Homo sapiens: one gene and its partner. The protein of the gene in region 1 purifies or fractionates together with the protein of each later gene. This does not show direct contact. Each region holds a gene or a part of one and is shown in the gene's direction. Other genes may lie near its edges.

What was found.
Region 2: the proteins of PIANP (region 1) and ADCY9 purify together in Homo sapiens (affinity purification with mass spectrometry; 2 studies listed by BioGRID and IntAct, with this or other methods). This does not show direct contact.

The regions. Positions count from the first base shown.
Region 1 is NC_000012.12:6,695,554-6,697,815, reverse strand, and holds part of PIANP (PILR alpha-associated neural protein isoform b precursor), read left to right. Parts: intron 1-23; coding exon 24-529; intron 530-1,291; coding exon 1,292-1,373; intron 1,374-2,164; coding exon 2,165-2,262. UniProt on the Homo sapiens protein: Acts as a ligand for PILRA in neural tissues, where it may be involved in immune regulation.
Region 2 is NC_000016.10:3,969,943-3,973,442, reverse strand, and holds part of ADCY9 (adenylate cyclase type 9), read left to right. Parts: intron 1-3,500. UniProt on the Homo sapiens protein: Adenylyl cyclase that catalyzes the formation of the signaling molecule cAMP in response to activation of G protein-coupled receptors.

The DNA.
Region 1 (2,262 bases):
CCACGCTCTCTCCCTTCTTGCAGGCCTGCGCTGCTGCTGTCCCACCTCCTCCCTCTCTGGCCACTGCTGTTGCTGCCCCTCCCACCGCCTGCTCAGGGCTCTTCATCCTCCCCTCGAACCCCACCAGCCCCAGCCCGCCCCCCGTGTGCCAGGGGAGGCCCCTCGGCCCCACGTCATGTGTGCGTGTGGGAGCGAGCACCTCCACCAAGCCGATCTCCTCGGGTCCCAAGATCACGTCGGCAAGTCCTGCCTGGCACTGCACCCCCAGCCACCCCATCAGGCTTTGAGGAGGGGCCGCCCTCATCCCAATACCCCTGGGCTATCGTGTGGGGTCCCACCGTGTCTCGAGAGGATGGAGGGGACCCCAACTCTGCCAATCCCGGATTTCTGGACTATGGTTTTGCAGCCCCTCATGGGCTCGCAACCCCACACCCCAACTCAGACTCCATGCGAGGTGATGGAGATGGGCTTATCCTTGGAGAGGCACCTGCCACCCTGCGGCCATTCCTGTTCGGGGGCCGTGGGGAAGGTGAGTGGGAAAGGCTGGGAGGGATATGACGGATGGGGAGGCTGGGTGAAGACACCAAGGGGCAGAAATAGAGGCCTTGTCTGTTAGCTCCTTCAACAAATGTGTCAGGCACTATACTGGCACAGGATGCAGAGATAAAGACACCCTCTCGGAGTTCAGGTCCACTGGAGCAGACAGACATGAAAGGACTTGGAGAGGAGTCATCGTAATAAATGCTTTAATAGAGGCATGTGCAGCATGATTTACAAAAAAAGAGAAGTGAGAGTCTCCTCCTGCTTGGGGATCAGGACACCTTCAGAGAACTGACATTTGAGCTGGCCCTTGAAAAGAGAGTGGGAGTATTCTGGGCAGAGAATGCCATGAATGAAGGGCACTACCCGGGAGATGTCTTGGCTCAGGGAGTGCTGATGGAGGAACAGGGCCTGTGGTTTGGGAGTTGGGCCATGGCAGAGACTAGGACATCTCCACCCCTTAGTTTCCAGGCATAGTGATAGGTTCTCGCTGATCATGGGGCCTCATCCTCATCACATATACACATAAGATTTGGTGAAATACATTTGGGAAAGTGGAGGAAAAGAGCTGAAAACTCAGGGGAATGCTGGTGATAATAAAGAGTGAGGCTCCAGAGGGGCAGACAGAGCCGGCAGTGTGGATCCACACAGCAATGCCACTCCAGCCGACAGAGCCCACAGCCCAGCCCCCAGCCCCTCTTGGCTCCTACCACCTCGGGGCTCCCTAAAACTTTCTTCCCACCCCAATCAGGTGTGGACCCCCAGCTCTATGTCACAATTACCATCTCCATCATCATTGTTCTCGTGGCCACTGGCATCATCTTCAAGTTCTGGTAAGCTGGGAGGAGGAAGGTGCTGGTGGATGGGGACGGAATGTTTGGCAGTCGAGGCTCTAACCACGAGGGGCAGTGGCAGCAATTTTGCTGGGGGGTGGGTGGGAAATGCTGGATGAAGGCAAGACCTTGGGAAAAGATAATTAAGGATTTGGCTGGGGGAAGACGGTGAGAAATCAGGGCAGATTCTGTCTCCCAGGGAAATACAAGGATAAGGGAGGGCAGGGGAATTATTCCTGTGCATTCCTGGTGAGCCTCCCCTGCCCCTACTTCCTCCAAGACAGAGAAAGCTGACCCAGTCTGCAGAGCCCTTCTTAGGGTTGCCTGGGGGGAGCAAGAAAACCTGGAGCTTTCTTTGCACACATTTAATAATGGATCACTCAGTCCTTCACACTTTACTGAGAGAATCATTAGACTCAGGTGTCCAAGTCATCAGCTTGCTTTGAACTAGAACTAAACCTGCCAGTTGTCTGCTGAAGACAGAAATGACTCTTCTGGGCATGTAGGGGAGAGGACATTGTGGTGGTGGGGAGGGGATATTAATTTTGTCGATCTGGATCAGGTTTGGAGGGTAAGGAGGTTTAGATTACCAAGCTCCCCTAGAGGGCAGGGGAAGTGGCTTTATGGGCACAGAGTCCCAGGGGATTTAGTAGAGAGAACTGTTAAAGGCCAGTTTCTCTGCTATAAGATGTTGGGAGTGACTGGGCGAGGCTGGGGGTGACCACTGGTGCAGGCCCAGGATGGGGGCTACTTGAGTGTGCAAGAGAACCTCTTTTCCTCTGGTACCCCAGCTGGGACCGCAGCCAGAAGCGACGCAGACCCTCAGGGCAGCAAGGTGCCCTGAGGCAGGAGGAGAGCCAGCAGCCACTGACAGACCTGTCCCCGGCTG
Region 2 (3,500 bases), on another chromosome or scaffold:
CTGAGATCAGGAGTTCAAGACCAGCCTGGCCAACATGGCAAAACCCCGTCTCTACTAAAAATACAAAAATTAGCTGGGGTGGTGGTGGGCACCTGTAATCCTAGCCACTTGGGAGGCTGAGGCAGGAGAATTGCTTGAACCTGGGAAGCGGAGGTTGCAGTGAGCCAAGATCGGCCACTGCACTCCAGCCTGGGCGACAGAGTGAGACTCTGTCTCAAAAAATAAAATAAAATAAAAAAAAGATTCATTAGCAACTGTAGTTGTCAATAATAAATAAATTAACTGATTATACATTTACTCAAATAATACAACTGTTAAAATGCAGTAAATATGGAAAACATTTAAGATTTTCATTTACTAGGTGAAACTATATATGTACTATAGGTACAACTAGGTATTTATATATAGTAAAAATATGTACAAGATTTATACTTAGGATATAATGAATGAGTGATGATTACAGCTTTAGTACTTAAAAGTAAAGCACCTAGCATCTTTTTTTAACCTTTTATTGATGTGTATGTCAGTATGCACAGAAGAGTACCTGATCATAAAAGGACAGCTCAGTGCATTTTCACCAGAGAACACACCCATTTAACTACCACCCAGACCAAGAAGTAGAGCATTACCACTACCCCAGAAGCCCTCCAACCCCACCGCTGCTGACCCCCTCTCCCCCGACCTGACCACCTCCCTAGGGGCAGATTTTAAATGGCACTGAAATATACCAAAGTGTCAACCGAAGCCACGTTTGGCTGGTTAGGACTGCAAGTGATGTTTGCTTTCTATTTTTTTCAGTTTTTCAATCCCTCTTCTCCATGATAACGGATTACACTGTATTTTACTCTAACTTCCATTTATGACTTATAAATTAACTCCTGCATTTAGTCACATGAAATGCCTCTTTTTGAGCCAGGTGTGGTGGCTCACGCCTGTAATCCCAACACTTTGGGAGGCTGAGGCAGGTGGATCACCTGAGGTCAGGAGTTCGAGACCAGCCTGACCAACATGTTTGTGAAACCCCATCTCTACTAAAAATACAAAAATTAGCTGGACGTGGTGGCGGGCACCTGTAATCCCAGCTACTCGGGAGGCTGAGGCAGGAGAATTGCTAGAACCCGGGAGGCAGAGGTTGCAGTGAGCCTAGATCGCACCACTGCACTCCAGCCTGGGGGACAGAGCAAGACTCCATCTCAAAAAAAAAAAAAGAAAAGAAAAAGAAATTCTTCTTTTTGAAGTGGATCTTTGCTATTTGAATTTAGGAATAGGATCGGCTCCTTTGTTCCTTTGGTATTAAAATAGGAAACACACATTCTAGCTGGGAAGCTGTCCTCGTACCTGTTTCTTACAGATGCCTTCTGTTGCGAGGCAGCCCCCTTGGTTTCTGAGTGCACATGCTGTGTGTGATGGCTTTTCTTCCTTGGAAGCAAAGGTGGAAAGCAAACGCTGTGCTCTGCCTTCCTCTCCCTCTGGCACTAGCCCATGTGCTGCTGTCCCTCCTCTGCCTGGAGGGGCCTGGCCTGCGCCCGTCTCGAGTCAGCTGTGCTGCTGGCTCCGGCTCCCGCAGATTAGAGTGAGCTGTACAAGCGATAACTGATTGAGAAGCCCAGATACAGTCTCCCATTTCCACCACAGAGACTGGAAACACCCCCTGCACATAATGGGGATGTTAGACCTTGGTGACACCTGCTCCTAAAGGGGACTGTTCTTGGTGTCACCACTTTGAGAAACCAAAAGAAAGGTCAACTCCTAACCCAACGAGCGGGGCTCACAAAACCTTCCCCCAGTCCATATTCTCTTCCTGCTCTATTTACAATCAACCAGAGGGCTCATGGAGCTGGACAGAAATATGTTTGAGTCATCATCGTAACAAATGGTTATTTTGCTTAGTACTTGAGATGTAGGATATGTAATGTCATCTGTTTCAATAGCAGTTCACGAAATGAGTCAGTGAAGCACAGGGTGTCTTCCCACTGAGGACTCTTGGTTCCTGGTCATAGGCGTTGAGTCACAAAGCCCGTATCAGGGCTCCCAAGACCAGCCCCAGGTGGACTCAGGACTCCGCAATCTGCTCTCTCACCGCTGTGATTACAGCGAAAAGACATAAGGCAGAATCAGCAAAGGGAAGGGTGTGTGAGTTGACGTTTGGAGGAAGCCGGCACCAGCTTCCAAGAGTCCTCTCCCGGTAGAGTCACACGGGATGGGCTTAATTCCTCCAGCAGTGAGTGGTGACAACACTTGTAACATGCTGCCTACCAGGGAAGCTCATTAAAGTCTCGGTGTCCAGGCTTGTATTAGGGGCTGTTCAGGTCTCCCGCCTCTGCCCAGCACGTGCCTAAATTCCAGACTTCCAGCAGGAAAGCGGGTATTCAGCGTAAACCTCCTTATTTAGACAGTGTAGGCAGTGTGAGCCGCTCTTATCAAGGAATGGCAGGAACCCTCCCCAAATCCCAGCTCCCTGGTGCCAGCCACCACCTTTGCAGGCAGGTCTTTCCAAGGATGGCAGCCTCAGGCCTTTCCTGCACGGAACCTTAGGCTGGAAGGGACGTAGCCATGCTCCAGTCCATCTTCACAGCTTACAAGCGAGGAAACTGAGACCCAGAAAGATGGCATGGCTTACCCAAGATTCTGAAACTCCCCCGCGGTCCAGCCAGGATGGGGCCCAGGGGTTCTGTTCCACCCACGGCCAGGGCTTTTGGCGGTTGTGCTTCGCAGAGGGCCGTGATGGCCACACAGGTCAAGCTCATTGTTTTTTAATATCCCAAGAACAGTTAGTGAAACTTATTAGACACTTTGATTAAAGGACTGAGCTTTTGGCCGGGCATGGTGGCTCGTGCCTGTAATCCCAGCACTTTGGGAGGCCAAGGCGGGTGGATCACCTGAGGTCAGGAGTTCCAGACCAACCTGGTCAACATGGTGAAACCCTGTCTCTACTAAAAAATACAAAAATTAGCCAAGTATGGTGGCGCACACCTGTAGTCCCAGCTACTCGGGAGGCTGAGGCAAGAGAATCACTTGAACCTGGAAGCGGAGGTTGCAGTGAGCCAAGGTCGCGCCATTGCACTCCAGCCAGGGCAACAGAGCAAGAAAGAAAAAAGAAGAATTGAGTTTTGGCCAGGCGTGGTGGCTCATCCCTGTAATCCCAGCACTTGGGGAGGCTAAGGCAGGCAGATTGGTTGAGCTCAGGAGTTCAAGACCAGCCTGGGCAAGATGGCGAGACCCTGTCTCTAAAAGAAAAAGAATTGAGCTTTCCAGTGTGATGGAGCTGTCTAAACTGTGGATCCGCCAGTCGCATATATAAGTATATAGTGACCAAGCCCATTATTGCATCAAATCAACTGGCCTACTCTGTGCGCGGGAGGAATGCATCAGGGTACAGCATTTACATGAACAGAACAGTCACGGTGTTGTAAAAAAGAAAAAGACTAGAATGCAGTTCAACAAATGTTAATAGTGATTGCCTCTGGATGGCAGGACGATGGACAAATCTTTTTTGTCTA